2 separate regions of the Homo sapiens genome follow, and region 2 is linked to region 1. Evidence: fine-mapped expression QTL. Tissue or cell type: whole blood. Region 1 holds a variant in brackets; the other region holds the start of a gene. All regions are shown on one strand. Distances are between the middles of the regions.

Region 1 (10,673 bases):
GCTACGAGTGTTTTCCGGTTTGGGGGAGGAGGGTCTAGGAAATGCTGCTGGCCACACTGACAGTCGGCCCCTGAATGGATTGCCGGGCCCAGCGGCAGCTTGAGGAGGGAAGGAGCTCAGATGGGAAGGGCGACCTCGCTAGAGAGGGGGCTCCAGGGCAGCAAACGTGTCCAAGGGTGTCTGTGTGTCTGCCTCCCACCTTTGATTGTTTGGGGGTGTGTCCTTTCCTCTGGGGCATCTGTCTGTCTGTCTGTCTCCGGTGTGTGACTGTCTGGGGTCTAAATCCGTTGAGTCTTTCCCTGTGTCTCCATCTGTATGAGTCTCTTCCTCTTTCTTTTTCAGGCAACGTGAAAAACAGATTCCAAGAAGGAAGTTCTAAGCCTCCCAGACATCAGCCGCCTCTCCCTGTCCCCGCCCCACAGGCGAGGCTATTCCAGCCCTTGCTATCACTTCCTTTCGAAGCAGCATCTTCCAGAAGCAGAAAATCCCAAATTCTGGGAAGACGAGGTTCTGACCAACTGTTCTGCGAAGGCAGCAGGGGAAGCTTCCGGAGGTGTCTTTTCTCTGAGCGTCGAGATGGGGACACAGCAAAGCTGTGGAAGGCAGGGAGCCTGGCTCTGGATTCGAATCCAGATGCAGCCACCTGCTGTATGTGTGGTGTCTGTGGTGACCTGGCCCCTTGCCTCAGCTTCTTCACAGTAAGGCACGAATCAACAACAGTACCTGCCTCACAGGACTGCTTAAGGGTGAACTCAACAGGGACATAGGTACTAGCTCTCGGAACGCTAGCTGGTACACAGCAAGTGCATAATAAATGGTGATCATCATGACATGGCAAAGCAGGCATCATGACATGGCAAAGCATGCATGCTGACCGGGCAAGCATGGTGAATGCGTCAAGGATGTCAGGCGCACGTTTATTAACGATCTGGAGTGACTGATACTGAGCAGGTAAATTCAATTTATAGAATCACAACTGGTACGAAAAGAGGAAGAAAGAGAAATGGTGAGAAAACTCAAGAAACCAGAAACATCCATCAGAAGACAGACCTAGATGGGAGCTCACGGTCCAGCTGCAGAGGCTCAAGGGGCCGACTGGCTGGGGATCAGCTCTCCTGCCCTCGAGGGGCGGAGCTGTGGGAGAGCCACTGGGAGCTGGACCCCCCATGACGAGAGGCCTCCTTGCACTGCTGAGCACCCACACAGAGACCCTGTGGCCAAAGGAGGAGGAGAGAGAACCTTGGCGTTCATCCCTCAAGAGCAGAAGGTTTCTCCACGTGGCCTCCTTGTCTCCCTACTTCCTCTCTTGCAAACACACCCCCCGTCTATTCTCCACCCTGCAGCCGGAACAATCTTTAAAAAAAATCAAGTCTCTGACTTCCCACACTATGCTCAGGTTAAAACCCTGCGAGGCCCACCCCACCTCACCACTGCACTTCCCATCTCCTTCCTCGCTCACCATGCGCCAGCCAGCCTGGCCTTTCGCCTGCTCCCACCCCAAGGCCTTTGCACATGCAGTTTTGTCTGTGGGAAGACTTGCCCTGGGTCTGTCATCCCACATGTGCTCTCACCTCTTCTCTTACTCTGCATCGCCTGGTGGCCTGTCTTGGTCACGAGGGGCAGTGCAGAGTATGGTCAGGAGCATGGATTATTCTGGCTGTGGGAGCAGCTGTGTGTCTCCACTTCCTTGTCTGTACCATGGAGTGAACTATGGCCCCGTCTCATTGGGTTGTTTGAGGATCGTAAAGAACCCAGAAAGCACCTGGTGTGTAGGAAGCACTGAGTACGTGTTGGCTGCTATGAGAAACCATCTTCTTTCTAAGTGCTTGCTTGTTCATTGTCAAGTGCACCTCACCAGCAAGAAAGCGCCTCGATGACCCTTATTTACCCTGGCGCTGTATCCGTGAGGGCTAACACCACACCTGACACAAGAAGTGGCCCTCGATTAACATGTGAAAGAGGAAGGAATCTCTGCAAAATGTCCATTCCCCAGCACTCGCATCTTTCCACCAAAGCCAGAGACCAGAGGAGGGCATGGATGTGAATGGAAACTGAAGGGTCTTTCAAAAACTAAATCTGCAACTCCCATCCGACCCAGCAATTGCACTCCTGGGCATTTATCCCAGAGAAATGAAGACTTAATGTTCACACAAAAACCTGTGCATGAGTGTTCACGGCAGCTTTACTTTTCATAGCAAAAACAAACAAACAAACAAAAAAAACTGGAAGCAATCCAGATGTCCCTCAACAGGTGAATGGTTAAACTAACCATGGTGCATTCATACCTTGGAACACTACGCAGCAACAAGAAGGAATGAACTACTGACACCTACAGCAACGTGGAGACATCTTCAGAGAATTACGTTAAGTGAAAAAAGCCAATTTCAAAAGGCTAGATAGTGTATGACTCCATTTCTATAACATGCTTAAAATAACAATATTATAGAAATGGAGAAGAGATTAGTGGTTTCATGGGTAAGGGGGTGGATACAGTTAGAAAAGGGTAGAATGAGATGTTCTTGTGATGGGACTGTTGTGTCTTGACTGGTGGTTACACAAATCTACGCATACAATAAAACTGCATTGAACGAAACACACACACAGACACACACACTCGAATGAGTGTGTGTAAAACTGGGGAAAGGTAAGGTTGATGGTTTGTGACAAATGTCAACTGCTGGCTTTGGCACTGTACTACAGTTATGTAAGACGGTACCATTGGGGGAAGCTGGAGGATATCTACATAGAACCTCTCTGTATTATTTTTTACAACCGCATGCTAACAAACAATTGTCTCAAAATAAAAAGTTTTCTGAAAACAAGTGAACGGTCTGGGAGTGCCCTGTCCCTTGGCATCACCAGAATCGCCCTGGCAGAGGCTGAGGCCAGCAGCCTTAAGCGGTCCTTAGGGCCTGGCCCAGGCCTGGCACTGGGGGAGGGGGTTAGTTTCCTGCAAAGGGAGGGTAAGAGCCGAAACAGAAGCCGCTTCCCTCTCTCGCAGCCTCCCTCGCCTCCCGCTCACAGCATCTGCCATCTGGCTGCTGCAGCCACACGAAACCATCTCTCGGCTGTCATCTCTCCACTTGCAGGTCTGGCTCCCAGGTTTGAAGATTAAATTCTAAACACGTCATTTAAAATTTAGAAACGAGGAAAGGAGATTTTAAGTAATCTGGAAGCACTGGCTCCTATTGTCTGCCCCAAGTAATAAGCATGGAACCTCCAACCTCTGTCTTAAAGGTGACAAGAGCCAGGGGAGGGAGAGCAGCTTGGGATTCCCCGATGTAAAGTGTCACTGCCTCCCCAATACAATCAAATACTCCCAAAAGGATGTCCCAAACTACCACTGTACCCCCAAGAGAAAGCATCACTGTAAAGTATCAACATATTGTTCAGGAAGAACTGCGGACGTCTCTGCCAGTGAGCACTTCAGGCACAGAAGAGCCAGGAACTGCAGGGATCTCTGAACAACACGAGTGTTTTTGAAGAAGAGTCCTCCTCTGTCTTCTCCAGAACATGGAACAGAACTAGAGCAGGTTTGTGATAATGAGCACCTAGGAGCGGGGACCTCCTTAAATGATCTGGTTAGGGACAGCCTTTCGGAGGAGGTGGCTTTTCAGCAGAGACCTTAAATATGAGGAGAGTTGGGGAAAAAACACTCCTGGCCAAACAATGGCAAGTGCAAATGCCCTGAGGTAGGAAACCTTTGTCTCATTCAAGGGCAAGAAACCCTACCTCCTGGGGCATAGCATGAAGATACAATGAGGAGCTAGCTGCTTTGGGGCTTGGCAAAGCTGCACTGAGACTTCCTGCAGGTGGCCATGGGTGTGTATTGGGGCAAAGGCAGCATAGACAACGTGAACTTGAAACGATTCAGGTATCATTTTCCAGTGTGACTCTCCAAACACGGCACACATCAGACCTGCTGGGGAAGCTCCTTTCAGACAATGCGGGAGCCGTGTCCAACAGGCTGAAATTGACATCGTTCAGTGGCGGGTTCCGGGACCTGCAGGGAATGGACTTACAAGCGCCCGCTATGGATGAACAGATTCCAACCAGGCGCTCGCTTCCTTAGTGAAGGAACCACTTGTTCAATTATGAAGCCCAGGATGTGAAAGCAACTGCTGGAGCCACATAGGTGAATTTGTTATGCTGGAAGGGGGTGGTCACCTGGCACTGTGAGTGGCTCAGAGATCCCTAAGTGATCAGAATTGTAAACGACCCAGGGGAAAACCTTGGGAAAAAACTCACCCTCTTAGATACTGAGTTTCTAGGGGAGGAGAGTGGCTTAGAAGCCCCTAAAATGGGTCAGATGAGAAAAGGACAGGGCCAGAGAGGGGGAGGGAGTTGCCCAGAGACACAGAGCAACCGTGCAAAGCTGGCTAGAGCCAGAGCCTGCGCCTTCCAGTTCCTTGGGTACAGGCTGTCCACGCAGGCATCCCTGGTGGGAGTGAGGGTCACAATGGCTGTGACCTTGACCATCTTTGCAAGGTGAGCCTAGCTTGTGGCATGGAGTCTGGCTTGCACTGCAAGCCCCAGGGAACCGTCGGGGGATGAGTGGATGGTAAAAACGACTTCTGCCCGTCAGACACTCAGACACACCAGCGGGGAGAGCTGCAGCCACTCCAGCTTTAGCTGGGTTGTGCTAAGAGCTTTAAGTGCATTATATCATTCAAAGCTCCCAAGGAGCCGCTTTGGGGAGTCCCGTCAACACCCGCATTCTGCAGATGAAGGGACTGGGACCTCAAGGGCAGCTGCTAGGGCTAAGGTGTGGTTCTTCTAC[C/T]GGAGATGATTTTGCCCCAGGGGACATCTGGCCATATCTGGAAACACTTGTGGTTGCCACAACTGGGAGGGGGTGTTACTAGCATCCAGTGGGCGAGGGGAAGTAGCTAAACATCCACCCTGCCACGCACAGGGAAGTCCCCCACAGAAAAGAATTATTGAGCCCAAACGTCAGCACCAAGGTCGAGAAACTCTGGATTAAATCAGATGATAGTGAATATCTCAGGCACAGTGCCGGGTGCATAGTGCTTGCTCAATAAACATTAGCTAGGCAACAGCTGATTCCTAATTAGGCCTCAATGTGAAGACAGAAGCAGGGACTGAAACCACACACAACCGGTTTGAAGAATAACAACAACTTAGTCTAAAAACATCTGCTTTGAAAGCAAACGCTTAGGAAAGGGCAGTTGTTCATTTCACACTTGGATTGTACATTTCTGTAGGCTGGAGTCGCAACCACCTTGATCACCGATCAACGCACACTGGCACCAACCACCATGCCAGACACACAGGAGGCACTTCGTAAATGCTTGTGAAATGAATACATGGGTGAGGGAAAGTGGCGGAGAGCAGTCTGCGTGAGGACGTAAGCACAGGTCCTTCTCTGGAGGCAGGAGAATGAAAATCATCCCACGGGTCGGGGCCGGGTCAGTGAGGAAGGGAGGGAAGGAGTTCTGAGAATGTCAATCTGCAGGACAACTTCTAGTTTCCACCTTTTGCATGAGGGATTTCCAAGTGCCCCAGGGCCTGGGAGTCCCCATTCATCAACCCTGGGTGCTACCAGGGACAGGGCCCATTGTGATTTGTGAGGCCTGCCTGAGTGCTGGTGGGGCAGGGGTGAGGCAGGCGCCCATGCTCCTTCCTGACCTCTCCAGCACGCTCCATCCACTTGCATGGAATCACGGCAGTGGGGAATGAGAAACACCCCTCCATCACTGCCACTGGGAACCCCCGTCCCTCCAAACCTGCCGCCTGCCTGAGCTCCTGAGGGCACCCTCACCCTGCATGGGCCTCCTTCCTGCCAGGGAGGGAGCCCTGTGCGAGGCAACCAGGGGTTGCCCCGGAGCCAGTCCCACTTCTGCCATCTGCGGGTGACAGCGAGAGACCTCTCTAGGGTGTCCCCTGCCTGAGACGACCGTGAGGATGGTGTGGCGCTGCCTCTTACAAGGGTGGTCCCAGCATCAAGAAGGGAACGGCCCTCCCAGACCTTTCACTGCTTAAAATAACCAACTTTTTAATTTAGCAACCATTGTCGTTTCACGTTCAATTCTGTAAGCAATAATAGAGCTCTCCACGTACCCTCCACCTCCTCCCCTGCTGGCAGCACCTTACAAAACTCGATTCTCTGTGGTTTTCCCAGAATCAGAACTTGTGTACGCTTTAGTCACCCCCTCATTTTACAGAAGAAGGAACTGCAACCTGGTCAGTCCCCCCTCAAGGTGACACGGCCAGCTGGGAACTGGACATGGCCACCACACCTAGCTTAGCAGACCTCACCCTCTCGGCTTCTCCTCTCTGCCTGAGGTACTCCCCCCAAGGTCTTCCCACCGCTGACTCCTTCTCATCCCTCATTCTCAGCACAAGGTCAGCCCTGCTGAGAGACCCTCTCAGACCAATAAAGCAGCCCCCAGGCACAGTCATGTGACACTGTCGAATCTCCTCCTCCGTTCAGTATCTGACTCTGTTTCCCATCTGCACCAGACTAGTAGCTCCCTGAGGGCAGGCTCAGGCCTGTTCCATTCACCAGGTCCTCCCATCTCCAGTGGCACAGGGAAGGAGCTCACCTACTGGATAAATGAACAGAAGATGGGTGATTCGCCCAAATACCGGGTCTGTCCTCCTTCCTTAGGTCACTATTACACACAGACAGACACAGCTACCTTCGATGGGAGGTGACGGCGTAGCAAAGGCTCCCAGTGGGAATGAAGGCTTGAGCTGAGTGTGAATGGTGCTCAGAGCGGGGGACCAGCTCCACCAGCGGTTCCCTGTGTGACCTTGGGCAAGCTGTTCTCTGAGCCTCGGTGGTTTCATCCATAAAATGGGGAAATGACAGCCCGCTGCCCTTGCATACCTAAGCACAAAGTCACTGGTAACTAGGGGCCCAGGTTCTGGGTCTCCCTGGAGTGTCGGGGTCCTAGGCGCCGGCCCAGAGGAGTTTCAAAGTCAGCCTTTAACTGCCCTCCCAGTAAAGAGGCTGCTGAATGCTACAGAGCAGGCTCCCGTGCCCACCGCCCCACACCTGGAAGACGAAAGGACACGAGAAGGAGAGGCACAGCTGCGTCGCTGGCTGTGACCCACACTCCTCCAGTTTTTGATTTAAAAAAAATCCCTGAAACAGCACCCACTCCCTGTCAAGTCTGTGTCCCCATCGCCAGCAGAAACCAACTCCTCCTGGAGGAAGGAAAGTTCAATGGATGAGCTATAAATATTTCTGCTAGATGCTGCCTGGGAGCTGGGCTTTCTGCATGAGCAGGCCCCGCTGAAAAGGAAGGCGGCTCGCCAGATTTGTTTCGAATTATGAAAATAGATGTTGTCTCCCCACCACATCTGTTTTGCCTGACAAATGAGCAGCAGCTCGCCTCCTAAATAAGGCAGCACACCAAGACGGTCTTGAAACTCCGGCTTCTCCAACTCTTCAGAAAAGGAGAAGAAGAAGAAAAAAGAGTCCAAGCCTCCCAGGTTTGAGCTCTAAAAGCCAGACCTTTTTCAATGTCATCTCTCACGCCGCAGTCTCCGGGGGCATTTACGCCACACTTGTCCTTAAGCTCAGATCTCCCTGAGCAGGTAGAGGCTGCTCACGTTAGAGGGCACGGATATCCCCCACTGCTTTTTAAAAAGAAAAAGAAGGCCAGGAGACACGCGATCAATTATAAAAAGTGCAAAGAAAGGAAAGCTCCCTAAACTCAAGCCAAGGGTGCGTTTTTGATGTGCTGAGAGAGGCCAGTTTTTGGAGGGAAACATCAATACTGTTGCCATTCAGTTCTCTATGCCATGCTGGCCTGGTGACTTGGGTTAATATAATCATTTTCCTTTAATTACTCCAGGAAAGACCCAATTACAGCGCAGACGCATCTGCCAGCCTGAGGATCCAATATTTAATAGCCCATCCTTCAGGAACATTCCTGCTTGGGAGCTTCCTGGAGCGAGCAGCCCTGCATGCATTACGAACTTGCATTACTATACTAACTCGGTGGTGGTGTTCTGGCCTGTGTGCGTGTGTGTGTGTGTGTGTGTGTGTGTGTGTTTCTTTTAAAAGTCTCTTCCCCTGAAAATACTTCATGTTGATATTTCTTCTTAAAGATGCTGTAATTATGAGAGAGCAGAAAGAACCCCCGAATGACTGTATAACTTGAAATATTACAAGCACAGTCACCCCACTTCCCCACTCCGCGGGGAAATTTACAGGCTTCCAGGCTGCCACCAAGAGGGAAGGACTAGAGCCCAGCAGCTCTCAGAGTTCTTGGAGTTCTCGGCCTCCGAAGCACACTGTCCAGCCACCTGCACAAAGTCCATCATAAACCCATGCGGGGCACAATGGGAGTAGCTGCTCAACAGACCACTCCTGCCTGTGGGCTGTCTGTTTTGGGGGTAGAAATAAAAAGATCTGGCCAAGAAACCTGGAGTGTTATGGGATGTCCTTCTCTATCTCCTGCAGACGAAATGTCCCACCACGCCCCACCCCCGGCTCCGCAACACCGCAGTCAAGTAGGCTGATAGGTTAGACTCGCTTCATCTGGCAGAAATGAGACGCAGTTTAGGGATCCCAGGAGACATCTGGTCAGCTGCCCACGCCTGACTCCCCCTCCCCAGCTTTTGTGCCCCCTACCAAGTAAAAACCGGAGGGCAGATTGATGACTGCGGGAGGGGAGGCGGGTGGAAATTTATGGCTTTGCAGCAGGTCAATGGTAATGACAATAGTTTTCACGGGTGGGGGTCGGGGAGTTAGGGGTCTAGCTGGGAGGGGGGCAGGGTGACTTCTCTCCACCCCGCAGCCCTCGCTCCAGAAGGGAACTCGGAAGCCTGCTTCCCTCCTGACCTGAACATGTAGCGGGCCTGGAAGTCAACTGAATTTCCCAAGTCCACTGGGCTGTGTAGCTGCCTAAGAAGGAGGGGGGCTCTGAGAACCGCCCCCACCACCCACTGCAGAGTCTGAAGGAGCCAAAGTGGGACCACTTTCTGGTTGCTGGCAGGACGATGCCTATTTGGCCTCTGCACCGGTTCCTGTTGGGCGGGTGATGGGTGATTGGGGGGCCCGGGAGACCCTCCACCCCCATAGCTTGCCAGTTTTTCACTGCGGTAACAATGACCTAGTCGCTATGGCAATGAGGTTAATTAATGCATCTATTTGGCAGAACTAAAACCTCGGACGCATTCAACTAGCCCTGATATTTTCATCCTTAAGAAGCCAACCTCTGGTGTTTTATTTGTCTAGGCATGTAGGCATGCCACAAAACAAAACATTGCCACAAAAGGAGGAGCTGTAAGAAGAAATGGGGGAAGTTGTGGGGAGGAGCTGGGAGGGGGGGGTCTCTGCCCACCCCTCAGAGAGAAGAAAACCTGGAATGTCACTTTTCCTTTTTCGATGATGGTATAAAATTAGCACAGTCAAGTAAATGTGTTATAAACACAAAGATGCTGCCAGGAGGCAAAGTGCCTTCATTTAAGGAGAGGAAGAATGGCTGAGGGGTTTTAGAAAGGGGGCTGGGTGGTCAAACGGTTGGAGGGGGTGCCGTCTGCAACCCTCCCAAGTACTGTAACCAGAGGGAAAAGCCATTTCCCCCGAGAACGTGCATCTGCAGAACGTCTAGACAGTCATAAAGAGGACAATTAAAAAAAGAAAAAAGCTGCAAGCCGCAGTCACTCTCCTCGCCAGGGTACCCACCCGGCTGCAACCTCCAGCTAACTGCCCGAGCAGGTGAAAAATTATAAAAGCAAGAAAAGCCAGTGTGGGCTAGGAGGAGGCCGGGGAGTCTGGGCCGAAAACAGTTTATGAGCAAGTGTTTTGAAATCCCGCTTTAAATAAGCCGGTAAATGAATTCAACCTTGTCAGATCTCTCTCCCCTCACGCAGACCAAATATTCCGCTGGCGTGCTGTCTAGACACAGATAACAAAGGACTTTTTACAGCGCACAGAGACGCGCTGACAAAGTAGCCATTTAAAGATGCAGTATTGCTTTCTCGGCCTAAAACGATTTGTCAGATGGACTTAAATGAAAATGCTAAGTTATCGGTCTGGTTTGGGGTCTGCTGGTGGACTGGCTGGGGGGAGGGGGCTGGCTGCTCCAGAGAACTAGAAACCATCATCTGTGATTGGGCTGCCCTCCAGGTCGCTCTTAAAATAGGACTGTACGTGGCCGCCCAGCAAATAATTCTGGCTCTTCTTGTTCTGGGAAGGCGCCTGCTAAGATGTCTCTAACACCTAGTAGCAGCAATTTTGTTGTAGCACTGTTCACTTAAAGGGGGCGTGTGGCAAAAAAAGGTTACATGAAAATGCATGGGGGAGAACTTGTTTCCACCTGCTCCGGGTGGACCAGAACCAAGAGGAGAGGAATCTGGTCTCACCTCCAACTTTGCATTTTAGCCCTTCTCATACAAAGGGTCACTATAAAATGAGTCACCCTCCCTTCCCAGGAAAGAAAGACAGGGTTGGAGGTGGGCTGGCTGCAAGGGTGTGGCCCGGGGACACACTCAGGGTGACACCCAAACACCCTCTAAACTGGGGAGTGGGCCTCCATGCAGCCAAGGTTCCAAGGGAGGAAGAACAGCATCCAGGAGCTCCCAGAGCCTCAACACAAGCCGTGCGCTGACCTCTCCTTCAGGTTACACTCCGGGGCAGCCGGACAGGGGTGGTTCTCCTAAATGGGGGAACTAGTTTCTTCCCCTGGGACTGTCAG
Region 2 (10,673 bases), 30 kb after region 1:
GGGCATTTGACCATGTCTGGAGACATTTCTGGCTGTCAAACCTGGGAGAGGGGTGCTGGTATCTAGTGGGTGTGGGAGAGGGGTGCTGGTAACACCTTACAGAGCACAGGACGGCCTTTCCTGCCCCCCAACAAAGAATTACCGGGCTCAGAATGTCACAGTGCCAAGGCACTGTCTCTACACCCTCACTTGATTCAAGCAAGTGTCAAACAGCATGTGCCAGGCAAGCCCAGGGAAACCTGGGTGTCCTGTGAGTTTCTGATATTTTCTCATATTTGTTTGGAAAAGGTTGGAGAAGAAGAATCAGAGGCTCGGTGACTCTGGCCAGTGGGTGATGTTAAAAAGACAGCTGCCACCGTAGATACCACCAGAGATGGGCCCAGGGCAGGGGCACCTCCCAGAACTCTCAGGAAACGCCTCCCGCGTGAGCAGACACCGGGTGGCCCCAGGTTCAGTCTTTCCCGAGAGCGAACTTAGCATCCATCTGGGCCCCAGAAGTTTGAGGCAATAACCAGAGGAGAAAGACCGGGGGTAATCTCTGAGACGCAGCAGAACTGAAATGAGGTAGATGAGGTTGCCAGGAAAACCAGGTGCCAGGAGTCCTTTCCTCAAAAGTAGCCGCTTCAAGCTCCAGGCTGACATCTGCAAGGCTGTCACTCGTGCTGCCTGCTTTTAATCCCAGGACCCTTGGCTTTTTAAAAGAAAGGGTTTTCCCACGGGTATGTTTTGGGAACACTGAATTCCCACCAGACAGCAGCCTCATCCCTCGACTCTCAGAAAAAATGGGGCCCCAGGAGTGTCCTGTTACAGTCAAGCCCACTCCATTCAGCATCCTGAGAGCAGACGTGGCTCCCGGCGTACAAAGGGGCTCTGACAATTTCCCCCAGCCCCCAATTTCAAGGAGGACCTGCTCTGGGGCCCAAGTACCAAATTCAAGAGGTGTGGGCGTGCAGTCCAAGAGAAACCACCCTGGCCTGGGGCTGGTGTGGGTTTTGGACCTCGGGCAAAACTTTCCACGGTGGACTTTCCTCATCTGTAAGTCAGGGATGTGAACCCCGAGCTTGCGTAGGCTCCTCTCAGGTCTGAAATTTGGGGTAGCTGAAGACCACACAGGGGAACCAGCAGTGGGTGGGAAGCCCGGTCCAGCCTGAAGACCTCCAGCCAGGCTCAGCAGGGGAGAGGCCCTATCTTGAAAGACTATAGAATTCTAGATTTCATCCATCACGGCCTCATTCTTCAGATGAAGACAGTGAGGCCCATCATGGCTTAAGGACCTAGCAAGGTCAATTTCCTTCTGCCAAAAGAAGGTATCTTACAGGATAGGAGCCACTTGGACACTGCCTCAAAGCCCAACTCCAAACCATCCATCAAGTTCTCGTTGCAAACAACTCCCAGCATGTACTAGATGAAAAACAGCAGCCACTACTAGTTAAAAGAAAAACCAAATACTAGCTTTTTTCCTTTCTTTTTTCCTTCCCTCCTTCCTTCCTATCTTTTGGTGTAAAGAAACTCCAGGAGACACCAGGCCTTACCACTTCCTCACCCTAGTCTCTCGGGGAAATCTGATGAAAACAAACTGTTACAGTATACCTGCATTTTAAAGACTGGTTGGTTCCCTCCGTGCCTTGCAGCTTTCTTCCAATAAGTAGGGGGCTGTGTATACACAGAACACAGGACTAACTGGGGCACCCAGGGGCCAGCTGGAACAGGCTAGGGTTCCAGGTATTAACCCCAAGGGTCCCAATCACTCAAAGGCTGCTGGCGGCGGCGGGGCAAAGTGCAGAGGGCGGCGGCAAGGCATTTAACAAGAGGCCTTGATGTCAGGTCAAAAACATCATGGACTGATGAGCCTAAGAAAGGACAGAAATAAGAACAATGCTTTTTTTTTTTTTTTTTAAGTCCTGAACCATAAAGAGAGACAAGAGCAAAATGATGCACTGTGCCCAGCCCTTGGAATAAGGGTGACACAAGGATGTGTGCCCCTCGAGCAGGAGGTCCTCAAGGCAGCTTTACAGAGCGAAAGGCAAAAAGTGAGGCAAGGAGGGCACTGAAGCAGCAATCCATCTAAGGCAAGACTCTCCAAACGTGTGCGAACGTATTTTAATAACATTCTCGTGCATTTCATTAGCCTCCTGAGTTCACAAAGGGCCTCTGGGAAGGCAAGTCGGTTCCGCAAACGCTGGCTCTGGGCAGGTCCTCCTGGCACCTCGCTAGTCTGGCACAGGCCAGCTAAGGTGGGGTAGGGGGAGAGCTTTCCATTCCAGGCTGGGAGGGAGTGTGGAGAGGTGGATGGATGGAAGGACCCACCACCAAAGCCCGGCCAGCCTGGTTATTTTTACCACTTGAAGCTCACTGTATAGGCTCAGGGGCCACAAACTGGCAGCCGCCTGCGGACACTTGCTTATGAGCCGCCCAGACACTGCCTTCATTCCACAGCGGCTGCTTCTCAGCTCCGGGCCCCAGCTAGGGGCAGCCTGGCCCCCAGCAGGGAAGGACTGTGTGCCCCTTCACCTGGCGTGCTTCTTCAGGGTGGGGATGGGGAAACTAAAGCTCAGGGAAGCAAAAGGTCCCCGAAAAGGTGGGCTGGGGGACAAGGTGTAGGCTAGAAGCTAGAAGCCAGAACCCGGGAGGTAGTGGTTCAATTCTCCACTCAACCAAATGTCCACCTAGGTGGGCTGTGTGTGCAGGAGGTAGAGACTTACTTATCTGAACTTTTGGGTGCCCAGGCGGCTGCGTTAGCGACAAGGTTCAAAACCCCACTCCCCACCGTTGGTCCACTGATCCCTTATTTAGGGCCAGGCAGTCCCAAACACAAACAGCCCCAAACTTTGACTCCTTTGTAACCATGGTCTCAGCCAGACTGAACCAAGCTGTCCAGACAGAGGCTATTTATAGGTGCGTCGGGGACACAGACACTGGCACAATGACACACACACATTCAAGATCCACGCTGGGCCAGACGGGCCAGAGCTGAGCCCTGGATTCAGACACCTGGACACACACGGTCCCCAGATCCGGCCCAACCAGACCAGACCCCCAGAAAGATGGACACGCTCAAGAAAGGCACCCCGGCCCGGACACGGGAAAGACACACAGAGAGAGGCAGGAAGACTCGGTGACACGCACTCTTGGGCAAGACCGCGACTCAGACCCCCAGACACCCCGAGAGACGCCGAAGACCCAGACAGAGCCACGCAGCCACGCACACTCCACAGACGCACGGACATCCACTCAGAGCCCGAGACACAGCGCCGCGAACACTCCAGACACACGCCCGGAGCCCCAGACACCTCGCAGACCAGACAGTGTCTCACACGCCCCTCCACCCCCGCCCAAAGTTGATAAAGAGCCGGCCTAAATGCTCCATCGCGACTGCCCTCAGGGAAATAAAATGGAAACTTCACGGATCCGCCCGCCCCAACCCTCCCGCGCCGTGCGCCGCCGCTGAGCCCCGGGTCCGAGTCCGGGCGGGCGGGGCGCGGACAGCGGGGGCCGTGCCAGGCTCGCAGCGCCGCGGGACAAAGCCGGGCCGGCCGCCAGCTGCCGCGAGCCGGGAGGGCGCGCCCGGGGCGCGGCGGGCGCTGCCCGGGCGCAGGGCGTTCGGTCCGAGGGGGCGCGCAGGGCCCGGACCCCCGCTCGCAGCTGTGCCCCGACATAGGGTCCGAGCCCGATGGAGTCTCCGGGGAGGGGGGCGTGGGGTCACTCACTGATCTCCATGCTCTGGAACAAAGAGCGTTTGCAGTTGCACGTGCAGGAGACATTGGGCTGCCCGGCGGCGGCGGCGGCGGTGCTGTTGACCCCCATCAAGCGGTGCATGGACGGCGCGGCGGCGCGGCGCGGGGCGCGGGGGGCTCGGGGGCGGCCGGGGGGGGCTCCGGCCGGCGCCCGGAGCTGGGGCCCCGCATGCAGGAGGCGCGCGGCGGGGGAGGCGCGCCCCGGCTCGCCGGGCTCGGGTCGCCGCCAAGTTCCCGGGGCGCCGCGGGGCTCAGTGCGCGGGACCGCGCTCCGCTGCGCCCCCCCGGCCTCCCCTCGGCAGCCCCGGGGGCGTCGGCAGTGCCCGCGGGTGGCGTCCGGAAAATGGGCTGGCAGCGGGGCGCGCGCTGCCGCCGGGGCTGAGCCTCTGCCGCTAGCTTTCCCCAGCCGAGCGCCTCCGCCGCCGCCGCCGCCGCCGCCTCCTCCTCCTCATTCAAGTCCAAGGAGATCGGGTTTCGCTCCGAGACCGCGGTCGGAGGCAGGCAGACGGTCTGACGTCAGCGCTAGACGGGGCTGCCGGTTCCCACCGCGCGGGGGCCGGGGAGGGGGCGCGCGCTGCGCCAATCCCCGCCGAGGTTCCCCCGCACCCCCTCCCCGAGCCGGGGGGCGGGGTGACGGGAAACGGGGCGGGCTCTTAAAGGGCCAGAGCTAGGCGGCCCACGTAGACCCGGCACCCGCGCAACGGAGGAGGGGCGCTGTGCCCTCTCCCCAACGGCGGTCAGCTTGGAACGCCTGCCCGGCGCACGCCCGGGGCCGGGGAGCCGAACTCGGTGCCAGCCGCACCCGGGCGGGTTGCTGGTGCGCCCTCCCCTCGCCCCCGTCCCTGGGGTCCTTGACCCAGGCTCTTGGGGCTAGCCTATCTTCTGAGGAGCACAAGGTCCCTGGGGGCTCAGGGAAGAGAAATTGGAGAAAGGGGGAGGAAGCCCCCAAGATGGATCACCCATTGCCTGGTTTCGCAGGAGACTGTCCGCCTTCAGTTCTCCAGCAGCTCGGGGATCATGGCCCACTGAACCCCCAAGCGCTTTCACCCGAACCCAAGGAGGACGACCAGGAAAGACGGGAACTCGCGTAGACACGCCCGGAAGCCCTTGTCATGTAAATAGCTGTCGGGGACTGGTGTATTGTCGCCGCCCCAGCCGGCGGGACCTGGGGCGAATCCACACCCATTGTCTGCTGCCCAAGGGGCCTCCGGCTGGGGGGCGCGGCTGCGGAGTTCAAAAGGGGTATGAGCAGGAGGGGTGTACTTTTAGTTCATTAAGTTTTAATTACAGGAGTGCTACAAGAACACATTCTTCAGGTTTAAAAAGATATTAAAATATTACATAAGAGACCTCCCCTCCCTGGCCCACCTCCAGCCTCTTAAAAATTTAGTGTGTCGCCTTTTAGACACTTTCTCAAAGCTTCACTTATTTAACAGGCACTTAAGGAGCACCTACCTGTGCCAGAAACTCTCCAAATATTAACTCAACCTGACACCGACTCAGTGTGGCCGAATATTACTCTCCCCATTTTACAGAGCGGGCAGCTGGTCAAGGAAGTCGCTTGTTGAAAGTCACACAGTGGTGGAGCCTGTGTGCCAACCCAGGACCCTGGGGAGCTGCCTCCCCCTCTCCCACGTAGTCCTGATTCTTTAAGTGTCCACATATTCCTGTAATGCCTGGAGTTTCAGTAATTAGCAGGGACTTAGTGTGTTCAGAGAAAAAAAAAGCTTTTAAAAATTATTGTTACTGTGTTTGTAACAGTTTGGATAGAGAAGGAAAAGCTGGAATTTGGGAAGTGAAGGTGGCCTCGGGGTAGAACTTACCTAGACCAGAGCGAATTCATCCTGAAGAACTCAGAGAAAGCCGGTGCAGGAAGTGGGTTCCCGCTCTCCCTGCACAGGCACAGTGATGCTGCCAGAGCTCTCCCAGAAAGACCAGGAGGCTTGTTCTGGAGAAGTCAAGCCCAGGGATGTGGCTCAGGCTGGTCCAAGCTCTTTGGAGGAGTCCAAGCGTGCCCAGCCCAGAGGGAGGTTCAGAGGCACTGACCGTCTTCTGTTTGGGAGGAGAAGCTCACTCTTGGAGCCACAGCCAGCACTAGGTCAGGACCCAGGCCCCGGCCCAGGAGTGGGGCAATACCCAGCGTCTACCCCAGATGGCACCCTGCTGTGAACTGGGCGCCCTCAGCCCCTGCCTTGAGGAAGGGGCAATACCACCAGCGTGTCTTTTATCAGGGAAGATATTGCTGCAGTTTGGCCGCTGCAACTTAAGAGAAAAGCTAAGGGGTCCCCCAGCATCCCTTGGGGTGCCACTGCAAATACTGGCTGGGCCTGGAGATGACCTGGGTCCCATTCACTTCCTAGGGTGAAGGAGGTCATCATTACCACCCCTGCTTTCAGCCATTTCTTCATTCATTCAATCAACAAACTGGCTGAGCTGCAACCCTGAGCCGGGGAATTCAGCCACTCCAGACACAGCCCCTGCCCTCCGGGAAGTCTCGGGAGACCTGGCTAGTCTGGCTGGGAGAAGTCACACGTTGATTGTCTTGGAAGTGAGATGGCATTTACACAATGGAGGCTGCACTGCCAGCAGGCAAAAATAACCAGTTAATTCAGTGGCTTAAAGAAACCAAACCTACCCACAACGCTTGACCTCCCATTGATCCATCTGCGACACCGGCAGTGGCTACCATTTATTGAGTGCTGATGGTGTCACCTGGGATTGACTTAGTGGTCTCTGGCGCTAGTTCCGAAGTTGATTCTGTCTGGAGAGCTTAATGCAGTGTTCAGACCTCAGGGTCCGAACCTGAGGGTCACCCAAAGATGAGTGGGACATAGCTGTGTGACCTCGGCTGAGTGCTTTCACCTCTCCAACCTCAGTTTCCTCTTCTGCAAAATGGGGTGGCTTCATGGCACCTTCACGTGGTGTGATTGCGAGGAATGAAGGGATCGATGCCTTGCAAGTAGAGGAGAAGGGGCCGGATACATCTTAGTTGTTATGTTATTTAATCATCTTGGCAACCCCGGGAGGGAGGAACCACTATCATTTTATTTTCCATTTTGCAGTTGAGGACAATGATGATTCCAGCACAGACAGGGCCCCTGACGGGGCAGTAGGAAAGGAGAATTGCTTTGGAAGGAGCATAGGCTGGACTGCCAGCACTCATAGGAGGCTTCGTGTGTGCCCAGGACTGCGAGAATTAAATACAGGACACCCAGTTCAGTTTGAATTTCAGATAAACTATGAATAATGATTAGTGTAAGTATATCTCAATTTAACTGGATAGCTTGTATTTTTCTTTGCGAAATCTGATAACCCTAGATGTGCCAGGGACTGTGATGCTGGCATTTTGGGCATGAAGGGCAGAGCCCACTGTCAGGCACAGGCAGAGAAGGTCACAACTCCCTGATTCTACCCAGGAGAAATGGGCAGAGCCAAGGTGTTAATGGGCTGAGGAGGGAGGGCTCACTGCTGGGAGTGGGAGTGGGGAGGGGGCACCGCGATTGGGCAGGCCTGAGTCCCTGGGAAGAATGCCACAAGTCAGAGGCAAAAAAAAAAAGGTTTTGTTCACTCATTGAACAAACATTCTGCTCCTATTCAGTGTGAAGCTCTGTGCTGGGTATGGGGCACAGGGCTGGGAAGAAAACCAACTCCCTGACCTCGTGTGACATTGTGGGGGACAAAGGGACTAAAGACACACACACACATGCAAACTCATAGCTCAATGAGGTCAGGAGGTCATTTCAGACATGGTGATAACAGGCCAAAGGCCAGAGTTGGGGTGAGATCAAGGAAGCCCTCCCTGAGGAGGTGGCATCTCATTCCACCTGCAGTTACCAACCACCCACAGGTGCAGCCCCAGCCATACTGAGGCTCACAGGTGAGGCTGACATCACATGTGTAAAAAGATGAGTCCAGGTGATAATTTCAGAGAGGGACGAGACCTGGGAAGAATATAAAAGGAGAGGGTTTGGAGGCGACTTGAGCCCAAAGGGTTGGGCCTCCTCTCTGGGGAGATGTGGGCTGGGCATGTAGGGGACAGTAGAGAGGGGATGCCAGGCCAGTGGGGGCATCAGGAACTGGGAGACTCTCATGGTCCCAGCAGGTTTGGAGTTTGGGACACATTTCTCAGCCTGGCTGTGGCCATGGGGTTGTGAAATGGGTGTGTGAAGCAAATGGATTGTGAAATGGGTGACTGCAGAGACAGGCCTTTCTGGGACTCCAGACAGCGTGTGCCACCATCCGCCCTGCCCATGGGTTGAATCCGCGGCCGGGGGGATTTTCCAGAGGAAACGTCCTGTTTCAGCAGGTTAAGGGGCTTTGCTCCCAGCAGCGCCGCGCATCTGTGCTCTGCTGGACTTGTGTGCAGAGCCAGCTTCGTGGGAGTGTGACCCCCCTGCACTCTCCAGGGCCCCATGCTCTGAAGGGTCGGGGGTTTATTGTATTATTTTATTTATTTATTTTTTAGTTTAATTTTTTCTACTGTTGACATCGTGAAATTCCTAATAGTTAACAGTTTCTGAACACGGGGGCCTGCAAATCTGTAACCAGTCCTGCTCAGATGCCAGGCCCACACTGGCAGCCAGTTGGGACCCCATGGAAGTCAGTGTGGGTTTTGGCCACAGCTGAGGGTGGCTGGCAGTGTTCTGACTGTGCCCGCTGGCCGAGGGTGGCTGGCCACTGTGGAAAGTGCCTGACTGAGCCAACAAAAGTCCTGCTTGGGGAGCCGGTTGAGGGGACAAGGCAGAGGCCCTCCTCAGGGCCAGCCGTGCCCCTGTCTGCCTGCCACCCCCGGCCTGCCTGGACGGAGCTGCCTCTGCAGAATTAGTCTTGGGAAACCTTAGGCAGATTAATGACCTCCCCTCCCAACTTAGCACCTTTGGAAACACCGTCCAGCAGGGTCATTTTCTTCCTCAGGTTGGGGTTAATTGGGGCTGTCAACTTTCACAGGTTAGCAACTTTGGATTTCATTTTTTTTGTCTTGTTTTACTTTTAAACACTAGTAAGAGCCAATGTTTATTGGGCACTGCCCATGTGCCATGCCAGGCCCTGTTCTAACCACTTCACATTCTTCCACTTAGTCATTCCACAAATATGCATTGGGATCCTACGGAGAGCCAGAAATGAGCTCACTGGATCCCCACGACAACCCTCTGAGGTCCAAGCTGATATTATTCCCATTTGACAGATGGGGACACTGAGGCTCAGGGACCCAAGGATGAGGTGGAGCTGGGATGTGAATCAGGTACTTGGGCCCTAAAGCCCATGGGCTGGCCTCAGCAAATGATGCCTTCTGCACCCTGTCTCCCTCCTCACTGCCTTTGACTGGGTCCTCCCTGGCCGTCCCACTGGACTCGGTTGGCACTGTGCCCCTGGCCGTCCCACTGGACTCGGTTGGCACCGTCCCCCTGGCCGTCCCACTGGACTTGGTTGGCGCCGTCCCCCTGGCCGTCCCACTGGACTCGGTTGGCGCCGTCCCCCTCAGCTCCACGGAGGCCCCCGGGGATCCACCATTTGCCTCACCGCTGGTGGTGTCTGTTCATAAAACCTCATCTCCGACCATGAGGGGCAGCTGACTCTGCAGCGGAGTGAGGCTGGAGCGGCTGGGTTGGTGAGAGGCCACTCCAGCACCTGCTCTGGGTCTGGCGTGGGCAGCCTTGGCAGGCTGCTTCAGCTCACTGAACCTGCGTCCCCTCTGCCACTAAACAGGGAGGAGCGGGATTTCACAGTGAGGGAGAGGCAGTGTGGGGAGGCCTCAGCACAGGGCCCAGCGGCCCCTGGACTCGGTGTCTGTGAGTTCACCATCCCCTCCACTGCTCCAGGGGGCAGGCCAGTCTGGCATGCCTTGCTTGGGGTCTGGCCTGCAGTGGGTGCTTGGCAAACCTCTGTGGACTAAATGCAGGAGGGACACCTACCCACAAACACATCCAAATCCCATTTTTGGCTGCCTTCATGACTGGCTAACAAGTCTTCCCGCTCACTCACCCTCTCCACCTCCAAGTATCCTCTTGCAGCTGAGTATCCAGAAGCCAGTCACCTGGGCTAGCACCTACCAAGAAGAGCAAGGAGCGTTTGCATGGTATCAACCAGAACCAGAAGTCTCAGCCAGAAAGACGTGTTGTGCATGTGTGGTCTCCACTGTGAGCTTGTGGGTGTGCGTTGCATGTATATGCAGGACGTACATGTGCATATTCACGCTGTGGGGTATTTGTGTGTGTGTGGTGTGTGTCGTCTGTGTTGAGGGTTTGAGGGTGCACGTTGTATTGTACATATGTTTGGGGTACGCATGTGAGTATTTGTGCTATGAGGGTATGTGTGTGTTGTGCGTGCATCTGCATGTGTTCTCGCATTTTCTTGGTTGTGTTGTGTGTGTTTAGGCGCTGATACAGGAGCTTCGCTGCTGTACAAATATACAGGAGCTTTGCTGCTGGACAAATGTCAGATGGTTGAGTTCTCCAACAGCAATCCAAAGATGCTCGGCTAAATTGGCCACAGATGACACCCCCACCTCCATCCCGGGGTGCCATCCCATTCTCTTCTGTCCAATTTTTCAATTCCAGCAGGGAACTGAATTCTTCCCGAGAAGAGAGGGCTTTGGAAGCCAGGCAGGGAGACAAGGGTGGGCAGAAGGAGAGGACAGAAGGGAACATTAGAGCCAATTTTGTCTTCTGACAGATGGGTAAACTGAGGCCCAGAGAGGGCCATGACTTGGAGAAGATTCAAGGTGCCAGTGAAAGGCAGAGCTGAGCTAGGATCCATTCAGTGCCTGACAGCAGCCCAGGCCCTGCAGGGTCTTTGGTTACCTTAAATAGCTTAATACACAGACTTTTCTACCACAGGTTGAGCTTGAGAGGGGAATGGAAGATTCCAGATGTTTAACTCATGTCTGAAACACTTTCAGAAAGAACTATGAGTCACTCAAGCTGATTTCACGGACCAGAA

Evidence for each region. PIP is the estimated chance that this variant, and not a neighbour inherited with it, causes the effect.
Region 2: it holds the start of PMEPA1, and the variant in region 1 is fine-mapped to the expression of PMEPA1 in whole blood (TOPMed, PIP above 0.99).

The regions. Positions count from the first base shown.
Region 1 is chr20:57,675,562-57,686,234 of GRCh38, forward strand. All of the region lies in intron 1 of PMEPA1 (prostate transmembrane protein, androgen induced 1), which reads right to left. Among named protein-coding and RNA genes, the nearest start is that of PMEPA1, 29 kb to the right of the region's middle. RefSeq lists enhancers at 1,216-1,799, 2,454-2,970, 2,971-3,486, 4,051-4,575, 4,576-5,099 and 5 more and a silencer at 6,314-6,477. The variant C/T (reference allele first, on the strand shown) is at 4,781.
Region 2 is chr20:57,705,767-57,716,439 of GRCh38, forward strand. It overlaps PMEPA1 (prostate transmembrane protein, androgen induced 1), which reads right to left and starts at 4,249. Exons shown (of 4, transcript NM_020182.5): 1 at 3,708-4,249. The coding sequence starts at 3,816. It overlaps NKILA (NF-kappaB interacting lncRNA), which reads left to right and starts at 4,417. Exons shown (of 1, transcript NR_131157.1): 1 at 4,417-7,014. RefSeq lists enhancers at 2,631-3,242, 6,303-6,914, 9,294-9,822 and silencers at 4,081-4,510, 4,531-4,650.